Linked DNA regions of Homo sapiens: all the other regions are linked to region 3. A link means that fine-mapping ties the variant in region 3 to the plasma level of a protein whose gene starts in the linked region. Region 3 holds a variant in brackets. A gene starts in each other region. All regions are shown on their forward strands. Distances are from middle to middle.

Region 1 (5,224 bases), 97 Mb after region 3:
GGGGTGGGATGGTGGCTGGACAAGATTGAATCATGCAGAGTAAAATAATTTTAAAGTATTCTATTTTCATGTTTAAAACAATATTGTAATGCAAACCATTTATCCATGATGCTAAAAAAAATTCTCACTTTATTTTCGAATGTGGATGCTAAAGATGTGTGCTATGTTTTTTGCTGGTGGCGTTCTTTTTTTATTATTATTATTATTATACTGGTGGCGTTCTACTGAGGGGAGTTTTAAGGTTGTTAGGGGCAGAGACAATGTCACCTACTTCATGTTTTGGGCATGTAGGGAGTTCTCAGTGAACAATGGTCTTGTTAAATCTATAATTAGAGGAAATAAGAATGGCAAGAATAAAATAAAATACTCAGATTTGTTTCTTCCCCATTGCCAGAATCATGTTAGTCACTAGTTTTCTACTTGTTTTTTTGGGAAGAGCTGGTACATTGCCTCCCACATGCATCCGACACTCCTATTACAGCAAAGTATTAGCAACAATATGAATGGCTAACATTTAAAGAGTACCTTCAATATAACAATAACTTTAACCATTTTTAAATATTCTCACATTAATCTGCAAAGCAGAATTTTTTTTTATTGCTCAGTAACCACATAAAATTAACTAGCCTGCAAGATCATACAGCTAGAGAGCAGTATTGTGTGATATTGAAGCACACGGACTACAGTCGTGTATTCAAGACCCAACCCCTCCAATCTCTACCAGAAGTTGCTTTACCTCTCTAAGGTTTCATTTGCTGACTACAAAATACATATTGTAATTTACTCCTTCACATTAGATTCTTGTGAGGATTGAGTGAGATAGTCAATGGAAAGAACTTAGCAAAGTGCTTGAGATATATATATGAATTTGGAATCTCTCCTTCCCCTCCCAAGTCATTGGGAACATAAGTTTACCTCAAAGCATGGAAGCTAGACCCTCCCCACACTAGAGTAATGAACAGCAGTGTTGTCCACAAATCACTCAGAGTTCCTCAGAGAGAAGGACAGTGGTCCCGAGAAGTGCTTCTCAAACTCTATGGACAATCTTTACAACTGGCAATGTCAAAATGTGTATTCTGATTTAGTTGTTATGGGAATGCATAGATTTTATTAGACTGTACTTTAGACAGGGAAGGAATGTCACACAAGTTGTAGACTGTATTGGCCAGGATTTTTCAGAGAAACAGAACCAATAGGATTCATAGAGGTAGATAAGTGAGTTGCAGTTTATTACAGGAATTGGCTCATGTGGTTATGGAGACTGAGAAACCTCAGTCCAGGCCACCTGCAAGCTGGAGAACCAGGAAAGCCAGTAACATGGCACATTCTGAGTCCAAAGGCCTGAGAACCAGGGAAGCCAATAACATCACTCTCAGTCTGAGGTCAAAAGCCTGAGAACCTAGTGAGGGATGTGGAGGTTGTGGGGGCAGACTGGTACAAGCCCCAGAGGCCAAAGCCAGAGAATCTAAAGTTCTAGTCCAAAGGCAGAAGAAGAAAGATGTCCCAGCTCACTAACAGAGACAGAATCCACCTTTCCTCTGCCTTTTTTTCTATCTGGGCCCTCAACCAATTAGTGGTGCCTGCCCACATTGGGTGAGGGCATCTCCTCCCCACTCAGTGCACTGAGTCAAATGCCAATCTCTTCTGGAAACACCCTCACAGATATACCTAAAAATAATGCTTTACTGGTTCTCTGGGTGTTCCTTAGCCCAGTCAAGTAGACACCTAAAATTAAATGTCTCATAGGCAATGTTCAAAAACCAAAAACAAACAAACAAAAAATTGAGACTTTTTTTCTAGACCAGTGTTTCTCAACTTTAGCTGCACATTTGAAAGACCTGGGAAGCTTTGTAAAAAAAAAAAAAAAAAAAAAAATATATATATATATATATATATATATATATATATATATATATATTTAATACAATATCAGCCCAAATGTCATCTCCACCTCCTCTCTCATCAATTGACCAGAGTTTTGGGGATCTTGTTTCAAGTGGTTCTAATGAAAAGCCTGTGGCGGAACTGCTACCCTACCAGTCAACCAGCATCACTCAAAATCTGGTCCAAGTCCTGGTGTGGTCCTGAAACTGTTGCTTGCTGGTTTAAGACGAGATAAGTACTGAAACTGAGAGTAAGTGTATCTTAATCTGTTCAGGCTACTATAGAAGAATAACATAGACTAAGTGACTCATAAACAACAGAAACTTATTTCTCACAGTTCTAGAGACTGAGAAGTCAGAAATCAAGGCACCAGCAGATTCGTTGACTGGTGAAGGCCCATTTCCTGGTTCATAGATGGCACCTTCTCATTATGTCTTCACTTTGTGGAATGGCAAGGCAATAGGGCCTCTTTTTTAAGGGTGCTGATCCCATTCATGAGGGCTCTATCCTTATAATGAAATCACCTTCAAAAGCCCTACCTCCTAATACTATCACATTTATGATTAGGTTTCAACATATGAATTTTGGGTGGACATAAACATTCAGACCATAACAAAGTGTTTAGAAACTTTTATAGCAGTATGACAAATTAAGTTTATTTGTAATCAAATGTAATAATAAAAACAGATGGATTAGTGAAAAAAAAATAGTTGGCTTACAAAGAAATACATTGAAACCCCTTGAATGAATGATCTAAATAATTAAACATATACATCTCTGGAAGTGAGGATATACCAGGCCCCTTCTTTAAGCTGTTATGTCTTAAAGCTGAAATGTTAACTTCAGTGATAAATTCCTCAGGCAGAGCATTGGCACCTGGCTACAACAGGGTTAATGAGCAGGAGTAGGGTAGGTGGGGTCACAAACCAGGAACACATGCCCTCCAAGTTAGATAGCTTTTTTTCCTCTTTAATTGCCGTTTAAACACACATGCTCTCACATAACACAGAAGGTGAGAGCTGAATGAAGTTTTCTGGGTAATGGCATGAAATGTTTTCCTTATGAGAAGTGGTGTTGAGTTACAGCGTGCAGACGGAGAACGGGGAGGAGAGAAACGGCAGTCTCAATCTGGCCCCCACCTTTTCTTGGGCTTGTAGGAAGGTGGACATGGGCTCCCGGAGACAAGACAAGTGATATGTTGAACTGTTCGGTGGCTGGAATCAACTGCTCCTGGAGTGACCTAAGGCCAGTGTTTATCAGAACTTAGCCAGGGCCAGCCAAGCAGGCACAGATGCTCTGCTATGAAATGCCACGCAGGCAGAGACTGACAAGCGGTAGGAACTGAGCTTTCCCCTTGGACTGCTGCTTCCTGCTGTGTTCAGGGGAGGGGGTCACTTTCTGGCAACTCTGCTGCTGCTGCTGCTGCTGCTGCTACTTCAGCTTCCTCTCCACTCAAGGTAAGCAGGCTAAGGGAGGGCAGGCTGCTAGGGAAAGCTTTGTACCATGAACAGGATCCGAAAGTTTTTCCGAGGAAGTGGGCGAGTCTTGGCATTTATCTTTGTAGCTTCTGTCATCTGGCTCCTCTTTGACATGGCAGCTCTCCGCCTCTCATTCAGTGAGATCAACACTCGGGTCATCAAGGAAGACATTGTGAGGAGGGAGCGGATAGGATTCAGAGTTCAGCCAGACCAAGGAAAAATTTTTTACAGCAGCATAAAAGAGATGAAACCTCCCCTAAGGGGACATGGGAAAGGGGCATGGGGCAAAGAGAATGTTAGAAAAACTGAGGAGAGTGTGCTCAAGGTTGAGGTGGACTTGGACCAAACCCAGAGGGAAAGAAAAATGCAGAATGCCCTGGGAAGGGGCAAGGTTGTGCCGTTGTGGCATCCTGCACATCTGCAGACCCTCCCTGTGACTCCTAACAAGCAGAAGACAGACGGGAGAGGCACCAAACCTGAAGCCTCCTCTCACCAGGGGACACCAAAGCAAACGACAGCTCAGGGGGCTCCAAAGACCTCATTCATAGCAGCAAAAGGAACTCAGGTAGTCAAAATATCAGTACACATGGGACGTGTCAGTTTAAAACAGGAGCCCCGGAAGAGTCATAGTCCCAGCAGTGACACATCAAAACTAGCAGCTGAAAGGGACTTGAATGTGACCATCAGTCTTAGTACTGATAGACCAAAGCAGCGATCACAGGCAGTAGCAAACGAGAGGGCACACCCTGCCAGCACAGCAGTGCCGAAGTCTGGGGAAGCCATGGCCTTAAACAAAACTAAGACTCAGAGCAAAGAAGTCAATGCAAATAAACACAAAGCCAATACGAGTCTTCCTTTTCCTAAGTTCACTGTCAATTCAAATCGCTTAAGGAAGCAATCTATTAATGAGACACCTTTGGGAAGTTTGTCAAAGGATGATGGAGCTAGAGGGGCTCATGGGAAGAAACTCAATTTCTCTGAAAGCCATCTTGTGATTATAACCAAAGAGGAAGAGCAAAAGGCAGACCCCAAAGAGGTCTCTAATTCTAAAACCAAAACAATATTTCCTAAAGTATTGGGTAAAAGCCAAAGTAAACACATTTCCAGGAATAGAAGTGAGATGTCTTCCTCTTCACTTGCTCCACATAGAGTGCCACTGTCCCAAACTAACCATGCTTTAACTGGAGGGCTAGAGCCAGCAAAAATCAACATAACTGCCAAAGCCCCCTCTACAGAATACAACCAGAGTCATATAAAAGCCCTTTTACCTGAAGACAGTGGAACGCACCAGGTGTTAAGAATTGATGTGACACTTTCTCCAAGGGACCCCAAAGCTCCAGGGCAGTTTGGGCGTCCTGTAGTTGTCCCCCATGGAAAGGAGAAGGAGGCAGAAAGAAGATGGAAAGAAGGAAACTTCAATGTCTACCTTAGCGATTTGATCCCAGTGGATAGAGCCATTGAAGACACCAGACCTGCTGGGTAAGACCTATTTCTCTTCTCTTTCCTCAACCCCAAGTGCTTTGGCTGTTATGTAAAGAGGATTTATTGCTAGATAATTCTGTGTGATTTTTGGTCACCTAGAGAATTAAAGAAACATTAATCATTGGATATCATTCAAATATTTCACCAGCTACAGAGACAAAAATTCTCTTATTAGCAGTTGCAGAGTTCTTGTTCTCTGAGACTTTGGTCCCTACCATTAGCTCATGTTCAATTTTCTTCCCTCTGTTGAAAACCTATTAAAATGATTAGATGAACTCAGTTCATAATAACGTGTATATAAATGGTAGAGCTTAAAGTGTAATTCCATTAGAATAGTGACAATGAAGTGAATTCCCAATTTTGGAACTTTTCATTATTAG
Region 2 (5,224 bases), not on the chromosome of region 3:
CCACCTTGGCCTCCCAAAGTGCTTAGATTACAGGCGTGAGCCACTGTGTCTACAAAGTCTTGGGGTTTAAATAAATTTGGTTAAAATGAAAAAAAGTAAAATTGACTTTAATTTGTATTTCCTGTATTTCTAATGATATACTAGGCATCATGTTATATGTTTATTGGTCATTTCTATTTCCTCTTTTGTGAAGGGCCTATTCAAGTCAGTTACCCCTGTTTTTTCCATTGTTCATCTTTTTCTCACTGAGTTGTAGGAGCTCCTGGGCATCAATCTTTTGTTAGTTTTTTTTTTTTTTTTTTTTTTTGAGACGAAGTATTGCTCTGCCCCAGGCTGGAGTGCAGTGGCCCAACCAATCTCGGCTCACTGCAAGCTCCGCCTCCCAGGTTCACGCCATTCTCCTGCCTCAGCCTCCCGAGTAGCTGGAACTACAGGCGGCCCCCACCACGCCCGGCTAATTTTTTGTACTTTTAGTAGAGACGGGGTTTCACTGTGTTAAGCCAGGATGGTCTCGATTTCCTGACCTCGTGATCCGCCCGCCTCGGCCTCCCAAAGTTCTGGGATTAGCAGCGTGAGCCACCGCGCCCGGCCCTTTCGTCAGTTTTAACACATCCTTTGTTAAGCATGAATGTGTTTTATCTCTCTGGCTAACTTGTTAGGTCAGTGGGTAAGAGGGCAGGGGTAGGAACTACAGAATAATAAATTAGACCAGTTAAGGAACGTTTAGGATTACAACTTCCTGCTTCCCTTATAGCTCTCTCCACGTCTGTCAAAGTGTTGGAACGGCAGCATCCCCTATAAAGGCCCCTCTTAAAAAGTGAAGATTATTACCCTCCCATGGGAGGGAAGGCTACCTACAGGCTGTTTTTGTTTTGCTTTATTTTCTAGAAAACCAATCACAGGCCGGATGCGGTGGCTCACGCCTGTAATCCCAGCTCTTTGGGAGGCCAAGGCGGGTGGATCACCTGAGGTCGGGAGTTCGCCACCAGCCTGACCAAAATGGAGAAACGCCGTCTCTACTAAAAATACAAAATTAGCCGGGCGTCGTGGCGCAGGCCTGTAATCCCAGCTACTCAGGAGGCTGAGGCAGGATAATCGCTTGAACCTGGGAGGCGGAGATTGCGGTGAGCGGAGATCGCGCCATTGCGCTCCGGCCTGGACAATAAGAGCGAAACTCCATGTCCAAAAAAAAAAAAAAAAAAGAAAAGAAAAAAGAAAACCAATCACAACAAGGCAGATAAAGAAGGATGAGTTGTCAGATTTTGATAACTGCGGATGAGGGGCGTGGACACACGGTTGGGAACTCGCAGCCGCTCATTGGTGGCTGGTGCGGGGGAAGTTGTTTCATTTGCCCCAGGTGTTGCCCAGTGACCTCCTGCGCGTGCGCCGCGTCTGTCCAGCTGCGCGGGAAGCTCAGGGGAGGGAAGGCCAGGTTCCATCCATTCAGTCACTCCAGACCTGGCACCCAGCCAAGCGCGCGGTTCCTTTACAGACTTTCCTGCGGGTCCACAGAAATGCAAGGATCCGCCTCTGTGCTGGAATTAGAGTCTGGGAGGGGGAATGCACAGTGCGCCCTGGGTGGTATTTTAGTTGTCGCCTTCAGGGCTAGCTCCGAGCCTCGTGCCCCGGCCTCCTCAGCGCTTAAGGAATCTCTGGAGCGCATGTCTTGGCGAGGGGAAGTGGGGCCCCGTTGAAGCTGTCGAGGCGTCTCTGAGAGGGGTGGGCTGGGGCCTGGAGAGGCCTCCGTGAGGACGCCGTTTGCTCTGGGCTCTGCCTGGCAGGGGACTTTGGAACCTGGCCTGAAGTGTTCAAGAAGCGGGCGCGGGGGCAACACGCGCGCGGGGACGCAGTAAGATCACAGGCTGCAAAGAAAACAGCACTAAGCGTCCTGGAGGACGCTGGAGCTTCAGGATAGTGTCCTTCCAGGTCGTGGGACCGCCCCCTCCTCCCCGCACTCCACCTTCCCGCAACTGGATCACTCGGCGGAAGCCTCAGGTGGGCCCCGGGGTCCAAGTCCGCCGCCGGGAGGGCGGGGGCGGGCCCCGAACCGCCGACTGCAGGGCGCGTCACGGCAGCCGCTCCTGATTGGCGGCCACGGCGGTCACGGGCAAGGTGCCCCGGGATTGACGCCGCCTGTGGCCAGAGCCGGAGTAACGGGACTCCCAGCTGCGCGTCGCAGTCCCGACGCGAGAAGGGCTGGAGTCGGCGTCCAGCCTAGAGCCCCCGGTGGGAGCCAGGCCGGGACGCGTGCACCATGCCCTACCTGCTCATCAGCACCCAGATCCGCATGGTGAGTACCGGCCGCCTGGCGACTTGGAGCCGGGACCAGGCCCTAGGGGGCTGCGACTGCACCTTCATGCCTCCCTCCTGGGCTGCACCCACCGGGGACTGGACCGGGAACCCGCCCAGACACGCCCCCTTGGCCGGGGAGAGGGAGTGGAGAAGCGGGCTCAGCTCGGCTTCCGGGACTCAGCGAGCTCTGGCCGGCCTGAAGCCTTTATTGCCGCGAAGGGGCCCGGGTACGTGCGTCCCGGCAACAGGGCGACCTCCGGGCGCTTCCGGCTCCTGTCCTACCTGTCGGCGGGAGAGACCCAGGGAGCCCTGGCCTCACGCGCAGCACCTAGTGCCCTGCACAGAGCCGCTCCGCAGGGGAAAAAAGGGCGAATAACCTGAGAGAAAGAGGTTTGGAAAAGATAAGGACCTGCCAAGGCGCTAAAACCCCGGTGCCAAGTCCTTGACCCATAAACAGCAACTAGCTGCACCCTTAGGCACTTCCAGGAAGGGCTATCCCTGAAGCTTTAGGGAAGGAAGAAAAGAAAGAACACCCTGCTTGGAAAAAAGGAAGGCGAGAAGGGGCTGTGCAGTTAGAGGTGGGAACACCATGAGTTAGAAGTCACGTTCCTTTCTCTGGGCGCAGTTTCCTTATCTGTAAAAAGGTTCTGATTGCCCCTCAGGAGTCCCCTTTTAGCTTCAGAAAGACATGACGGGCAGCAAGGTGCTCTCTGCCCTTGCTCACTGCCCAGTGCTGGGGTGAACCAGCAAAGGGTACACAACCCCCTTGGTGGGTTCACCACGCAACAGAGAGCTCTTGCAGAGCCCTGGGCAGCGGTTTGTGAAGCAGCCATCTGCTCAGCTGCCAAAATGTGGATTCCTGGGTCCCTTCCCAGACCTCCTAAAACTCTGTCTGGGGCTTGGGAACCCATACTTGGAAATGGCCCCCCAAAGTGATTCTTATTTCTTAAAAGATATGGCTTTATTGATATGTAATGTGCATACCATAAATTCTTTGATTTAAAGTGTACAATTCAGTGTTGTTGTTTCTTTAGTGTACTCAGAGTTGTGCAACCATCACCATAATCAGTTTTAGAACATTTCTAATACCCCAAAAGGAAACCCTGTACCCACTGGCAGACACTCTTGATTTCCCCCAAGTCCCTCAGCCCTAGATAACCACTAATTACCTTTCTGTGGTAATGTGATCTGAGTCTGGCTTCTTTCATTTACATGTTTATTTTGTTTTGTTTTTTTGAAATGGAGTCTCACTCTGTCACCCAGGCTGGAGTGCAGTGGTGCAATCATGGCTCACTGCAGCCTCAAACTCCTCCCACCTCAAGCGATCCTCCCACCTCAGCCTCAGTAGCTGGAACTATAGGCTCGTGATACTTTGCCTGGCTAAAGCTGAGCTTTAAGGCACTAGGGAGGGCGCCTACATTGCTCCTCCTGATCATTGATGGGCTCCACCCCTTCACAGCTTGTGCTCAGCCCCTAAGAATCCTTGCTACTCTCTGTAGCCTTTACCTGAACCTTACTCAGGGCTAGCAGGCAGGGGAGGAAGGACAGGCAAGACCTTCCACCTCCTCCTGGCAGCCAGCCAAGCAGCCACTGTGGCTTACCTTGCAGGAGGTGGGCCCCACTATGGTGGGCGATGAACAGTCGGATCCAGAGCTGATGCAGCATCTGGGGGCTTCAAAGAGAAGAGCCTTGGGAAACAACTTGTAAGTAGCAGCCTCCCTCAGTATCCTCTCCCTGCCAGCCCCTAGACCTGCCTCTGCTCCCTTTATACAACCTCCAAGCCCAGGGACAGGGCCCAGCATCAGAGCCCCCTGCCTGCATCCTGGGGCTCTGTTCTCCGGAGGAGTTGGTCCCATCTGTAGCCTCTCCAACATCCCCCCTCTCCCCCACGAGGCTTGCTCTGAAAGCTTTCCACATCCTTACTGGAACCGCAGAAACAGAGTCCGTTCCCTGGGTCTAGGACTCCACTAGCAGACTGTTCCTTGCCCTGCCCTCTCCTAAGCTGGACCCCATCAAGGACAGACAGGCACAGAGAGAAAGGTTTTTGTCGTGAGGATCTGCATGAGTCGCAAAGCTAAGCCCTAGAAGCAGGGAGCAGGGAGCCTGCGTCCTACCTCCAGGGTGGCTGCTGCCTGGGGACCTAGCCATTTCCCTTGGCATTCTTCCTAATGCCTCCATGTCTAAACTGTGACTACTGCTTCCATTCCTCCTCTCACCCCTGGAGGCAGGGAGAACCCAAGCTACACAGGCTCTCTGAAAAGAGTTGTCAGAGTGAGTGCCAGTTCAAATCGGGGAAAGAGGAGGGCTGATCCCAGCCCCTGGGTCAAGGCTCGGGGACAGAAGCCAGCCCCCTCCCTTTGCCATGAGGCACTTGCCTCTCCATGCCCAGCTTGGGGCTTGAGCCCTTTGTCTGCTTCATGGTCTTTCAGCATCAATTAAACCTGACAGAAGGACTACCAGCACTCTCCATGCTAGGGAGTGGCGCACAGAGCCAGGAGCTACTGGGGCTCAGCCTTGTTGCTACAGAACTGCAGGACAGCCAGGGCAGTGAGGGGCCTGGAGGCTTATTTTTTTTTGAAATGGAGTCTCTGTCGCCCAGGCTGGAGTGCGGTGGTGCAATCATGGCTCACTGCAGCCTCAGCCTCCTCCTACCTGGAAGCCTGGGTGGGGAGCAAGCCCAGGGAGGGCGGCAGCAGGGCTGTGGTCAGACTAACATGGTCTACCATCTGGGACGCTGGGGAACCTGATTAACCCCTCTGTTTTCTCATCTATCAATGGCCACAACAGTGGCACCTTCACTAGCTTGTTGGGAAGAATAAATGAGATAGCTCGTGAAGTACCTAGAAGGGGAGGAGGCAGGGGGCGTGCACTTACCCCAGCGCCCAGCAAGCAGCCAGCAAGTGTGAGTCACTACAAGAGTGGCCAGGCTGCC
Region 3 (5,224 bases):
GGCTTAATTTTAATGCGGTAATTTTCTCATCAACCATTCTATCTAAGGAAGCTGCAGAAAGGTGAAAACTGGAAATTTATGAACCTTTAATGGGAAATCTGGATAAGAATTTGGTCTAAATATATGAAGAGGAACATGGACAGCTGGCACAAACACAAAATGCAAGTACTCCAACTCCAGCTCCCTGATAACATCTGCCACTAAAGGTTTACTGACTTGGTTTTCCCAACTCTAGAATGGAGCCCTCATCTAAACCTGGGGAAGCAATATATGAACAATTAGATATTAAATGCTTATAGATCCCTCTCTGTGCTATTACTTTTGACCTGGGTTTTAAAAACACAGTAACACTTACAATTTATTCTCATTATGTAGAAACATTTAAATTATCCTGGAAGAGTTTGTCTCACGGGCTGTTCAAAGAGTGTTTCTTCCTTTCCTTCTAGGAACATGAGGAGTGAATCTGACTATTTCATCAAAGCCTGTAAAAGATACCTGAGTCATGATTTTAACTGAACAATGTCTCCAAGAATTCAGACTGTGAGAGGGGGAAGAAGACCGTCTCTTTGGTGCAGTGGGAATTGCCATTGTGTCCTCCCTGGTTCCTCTCCTCTGTCCTTGGCAATCCAGTTACAATTTGACAGCATTTAAAGATGACAGTACTTGAGATAATAGGACAATGCCATAACAGGATTACAGCAAATGTGAAAGAAAGGACACACGTAGGTACTGTCATTTAGGTAATGTCATCTATGATCAGTTTTTGTTTCATTTTTTGCTGACACAGAACTCAGTGCTACTTATACAATTCACTGGAAACCCTGTTATGGCTGTAAATAGTTTGCTTCCCCCAATGAAAGAAAATACTTACTGTACTGCAGGGGAATTCGGTAAAACTTTCTAGTTTTGCTTAACATGAAAATAATAACAAAAAATTTCAAATCAGTATCAATAGCCAAAGATCCAAAAACAGCCTAAAGCCACTGCTACCCAAAACGATTTTGTTTGTTTGTTTGTTTGTTTGTTTGTTTTTTGTTTCTGAGGTGGAGTTTCGCTCTTGTTGCCCGGGCTGGAGTGCAATGGCGCAATCTCGGCTCACCGCAATCTCCGCCTCCCGGGTTCAAGCGATTCTCCTGCCTCAGCCTCCCAAGTAGCTGGGATTATAGGCATGCGCCACCACACGCGGCTAATTTCTGTATTTTTGGTAGAGACGGGGTTTCTCCATGTTGGTCAGGCTGGTCTCAAACTCCCGACCTTAGGTGATCCACCCACCTCAGCCTCCCAAAGTGCTGGGATTATAGGCATAAGCTACCACACCCAGCCATACCCAAAACAAATTTATCTTCAAAGAAAAAAAATGCTGTGTGTCCTAAATAATAGGTGGTCAAAATGTTTCTAAAGGGTACCTTAGACCCCAATTAAACTGTTGCTTTAGAGTTTGGGGAAAATAAAGTGGAAACACCTAACTAAATTCACACTGTGAGAGCCAGTCAACACTAGCCCACATGCCAATGGGGTCCTTGTCAGTCACTTACACTATTTCTCATTCCATTTCTTTTATGTCATTTTGCCCACAACATATCCAAATTCATACAATAGAGGCATTTGGAACCCAGTGCTACTCTGCTTCCTAACTAATTTCTGCCGCTGGAAGTTTGTTCCTAAAGCCACCAAGTCTCCTAGAAGCCCTTATTTCTTGGCAGTAAACACACGGCGGCCCTGCGTGCCATTAAAATAGCTGCCTCATCATCCAGGATGACAAACAGCCACACTGTGTGCCAAGTGACCAGCCACAAACAAAAGCTTGTTTGACCAGCACCTATCTCAAAAGAAAATTCTGAGTAGAAGAGGAAGCACCTGAAGGAAGCTGAAAAGAAAGTCTGACATTTGAAATTCTAACAGAGGTTCTTTCCCCTCTAGGACACTCTGGGTCACTAGCATCTCTGCTTTCCTTGTTCCCTGGCTCATCTCCTGAGCCCCCGGGCCGTTCTCCTTTCCAACTGTCTATTTACTAACCACTTTTATCAGCCCCCCTCTCACCCCATCCAAAAATGTTTACTCAAGTTCAGGCTAGCTTAATAACCCCCAAAGCAGGAGGACACTATTAAAGAGAGATCACAGGGATATGAATTTTGATGCCTGCCTTATTTTGTCACATATCATCAAAATGATAAATGCTATCATGAAACACCATCCATGCCCTGAGTATCCCAACATGGATGGACTGGAGGAGAGGGACAAGGGACCAATACAGACCCTGATGGGCCCTTGATTCTGAACGTCATTCCTGCCCACTCCCCATCTGCAATGGGGGCAAAGGCAAAAGGAAAGCTTTCCAAGATTTAAACAGTCCTCTATATTAGTAACAGACCCATGTGCTAGGCTCCTACAATATCTGGTTCCATTCTGCTAGTGAAAGGAAACCCTACGGTCAACCAACTCCATCCTCTAGAACATATAAGTCAACAGGGGAGAACTCGGCATGAAGGGTATAACAGAGAATTTCAACAACTCATCCACCCCCTTTGCAGAGTCCTCACTTAACATCCCCTAGCATGCTGCCTTTGTCTTCTGATCAGAGTATTTCAGCAGCCCTCTGTGATCTATAGGATATGGTCCAACTCCTTAAGCCATCATTCCAGAGCTCCACAATCCAACTCCAATTTTCTATTCCAGTCTTAGTTCCCCGTACCCATCAAGGAAAATATTCTGCCCAAGTAAAAATCCCTTCCGTTCTCATTTCCTTCCTGGCTTTTCTTCTTCTTCTCTTACCTCCTGGAATCCTGCTCATACTTCAAGGCCTCAATGAAGGTCTACCTAGTCACCTTAGCAAGAAGAATCAATCTCATCCTTCTCCAACCTCATAGAACACTCATCCCATGCACCACTCCCTGACTCATATCTAGGCCTTACATTGCTGGTTAACCCTCTATGCCTCTAATTAATTTCATGTGTTCCCAATGAGTTTCTTCAATACAGGGACTCTTTCTCCTACTTGCTTCTATTATATTTGAAAGTACCAGCACAGCATGTGACATGATATTCATATATTCTAGGAATTCAACAAATAGCATATAAATGACTGATTTACCTTCCTAAAAGGGAAGTTATTTTTCCAAATATCATTTCTGTTCAAAATGGTAATTTTAACCTTCTTAGCACCCACAAACA[T/G]TTCCCTTCTGATATCTACTTGAACTTTCAGATAAAAAAAAAAAAGCAAGTTGCAGTAACATGTTATGCTACACAAAGATTAGCATGAATATCCACCCTCTTTAAACAGCCACCCCACACCCTGGAGAAGAGCAAATGTGAAGTTTATGTGCCAACCAGACTGTGCGCCAGGTTGGTAAAGTCTGACAGAGTTACCAAAAAATGACAACATCTTCTATATGTGAAGCCCAACTACGTGGTTGTGCAACTCTATAGCTGACTTTCAACCATGGTCATCTGCAAAGAAGTTAGTCTCAGCCACCTGCGCATCCTCAATGCAAAAAGCTAAGTTCTAAAAACGTATTCTTAATGCTGTTTTAAATGCAGCACTACTAAAAAGGACCTCATTTTGATGCCAGAGGGCAGCAAACATGGACACTTTTGGCCCCCTTCAGCTATTAAGTACAGTAAAAGGAAGTCCTAACTATCATTTGAAATGCTCCCGGCCAGGCGCTGTGGCTCACACCTGTAATCCCAGCACTTTGGGAGGCCGGGGCAGGAGGATCACCTGAGGTCAGGAGTTCAAGATCAGTTTGGACAACACAGTGAAACCCCGTCTCTACTAAAAATACAAAATTAGCCGGGCATGGTAATACATGCCTGTAATCTCAGCTACTCGGGAGGCTGAGGCAGGAGATCGCTTGAACCTGGGAGGCAGAAGATGCAGTGAGCCGAGATCGCGCCATTGCATTCCAGCCCGGGCAACAAGAGTAAATCTCCGTCTCACCAAAAAAAGAAAAAAGAAAAAAAAAAAAAAGAAAGAAATGCTCCCCTCAGTTCTCCAGGCTGGGCTGACTGCCCACGTCAAAACACCCTAGGCATCATCACTCCGTGTTGAGAGCCAAGTGGCCAGGTAGGACCCAACACTACGCAGGCACAGACGTTTTCCATGTTAAGAACCCAAATCCATACAGTCCTTAGCACCCAAATAGGTTCAGAAAAGGCAGTCCACACAAATCTGCCAAATAAATGAAGTTCAGATATTGCATTTACGCTAAATACCTTGGAAATTGAGAGGGAATCTGGAGAGGAAGATGGATGTAGGAAAAACAAAAACCCTCACTTTACAGGAATTCAGCACAGGAGATGCTACATTGTTAGCATCTCCGCTTAAGGAGAAGACATACTGATGAATAAGACTGAGTTGGTGACAGGCACAGTGGCTCTCGCCTGTAATCCCAGCACTTTGGGAGGTCAAGGCAGGAGGATCACTGGAGCCCAGGAGTTCAAGACCAGCCTGGGCAACAGGGAGAAACTCCATCTCTACAAAATTAGCCAGGCATGGTGGCATGCACCTGTCGTCCCAGCTACTCAGGAGGCTGAGGTGACAGGATGGCTTGAGCCTAGGAGATCAAGGCTGCAGTGAGCTATGAACATGCCACTACACTCTAGCCTAGGCAACACAGCGAGACCCTGTCTCAAAAACAAACAAACAAACAAACAAAAGACAACTAATTGGGCTAATGTTTAGAATAAATGTATTTCTAGGGAAGAAAAAAACTTAGTTGGGTACTCCCTCCCCTTTTTACTTTTTGAAGCCTGCTGGAATTCTAGGAAAACAGATTTCCTCCCCTTGCTCTCTCCTTCCTCACATACTCACCAGTACTCATGCGCTTCTCAGACCCAAATGCTCTGCTTATGGTGGATAACCCCATCTCAGTGGGCCTCCCTCTCTCTCTCTCTCTCTCTCTCTCTCTGTCATTACCAACTTCTATAAAATCTCAGAATACAAAGGGCATTCTCATTTCCCTGAAATGTACTTTGGTGCTACCCTGAAAGACGGCTAGAGTCTTGAGGAGACCCAAACAGTTAAAGGTTACAGACAGACTTGGTTCCACTCCAGTGGTGGGTGTTTTGTTTTGTTTCGCTTTAGCTTTATTAAGGTATACTTTACATACAACAAAAGTCATTCATTTTAAGTGTACAGTTGGATTCAATTTGCCAGTTGTATACAGCTGTGTGGCCTCCACCAAAATCAAGATACAGAACACGTCCACCAGTCTAGAAAGCCCCC

Direction of the effects. Alleles are on the strand shown, and positions count from the first base shown. The strength of an association depends on the size of the effect and on how common the allele is.
With allele T in place of G in region 3, the plasma level of the protein whose gene starts at base 3,010 in region 1 is higher (weak association).
For the plasma level of the protein whose gene starts at base 2,142 in region 2, allele T in region 3 goes with a higher level than allele G (moderate association).

What was found. PIP is the posterior inclusion probability: the model's chance that the variant is causal. The UK Biobank Pharma Proteomics Project read protein levels with antibody pairs (Olink). The fine-mapping took linkage between variants from a reference panel, not from the people measured, so its PIPs are less certain.
Region 1: GALNT5 starts here. The variant in region 3 is fine-mapped to the plasma level of the GALNT5 protein (UK Biobank, PIP 0.95).
Region 2: GCHFR starts here. The variant in region 3 is fine-mapped to the plasma level of the GCHFR protein (UK Biobank, PIP above 0.99).

Annotation. Positions count from the first base shown.
Region 1 is chr2:157,254,696-157,259,919 of GRCh38, forward strand. GALNT5 (polypeptide N-acetylgalactosaminyltransferase 5) reads left to right here and starts at 3,010. Exons shown (of 10, transcript NM_014568.3): 1 at 3,010-4,841. The coding sequence starts at 3,388.
Region 2 is chr15:40,761,927-40,767,150 of GRCh38, forward strand. GCHFR (GTP cyclohydrolase I feedback regulator) reads left to right here and starts at 2,142. Exons shown (of 3, transcript NM_005258.3): 1 at 2,142-2,290; 2 at 3,901-3,995. The coding sequence starts at 2,255. DNAJC17 (DnaJ heat shock protein family (Hsp40) member C17) reads right to left here. Exons shown (of 11, transcript NM_018163.3): 11 at 3,235-5,224. RefSeq lists a silencer at 1,706-2,155 and enhancers at 1,822-2,687, 3,465-4,254.
Region 3 is chr2:60,487,737-60,492,960 of GRCh38, forward strand. All of the region lies in intron 2 of BCL11A (BCL11 transcription factor A), which reads right to left. Among named protein-coding and RNA genes, the nearest start is that of BCL11A, 63 kb to the right of the region's middle. The variant T/G (reference allele first, on the strand shown) is at 3,172.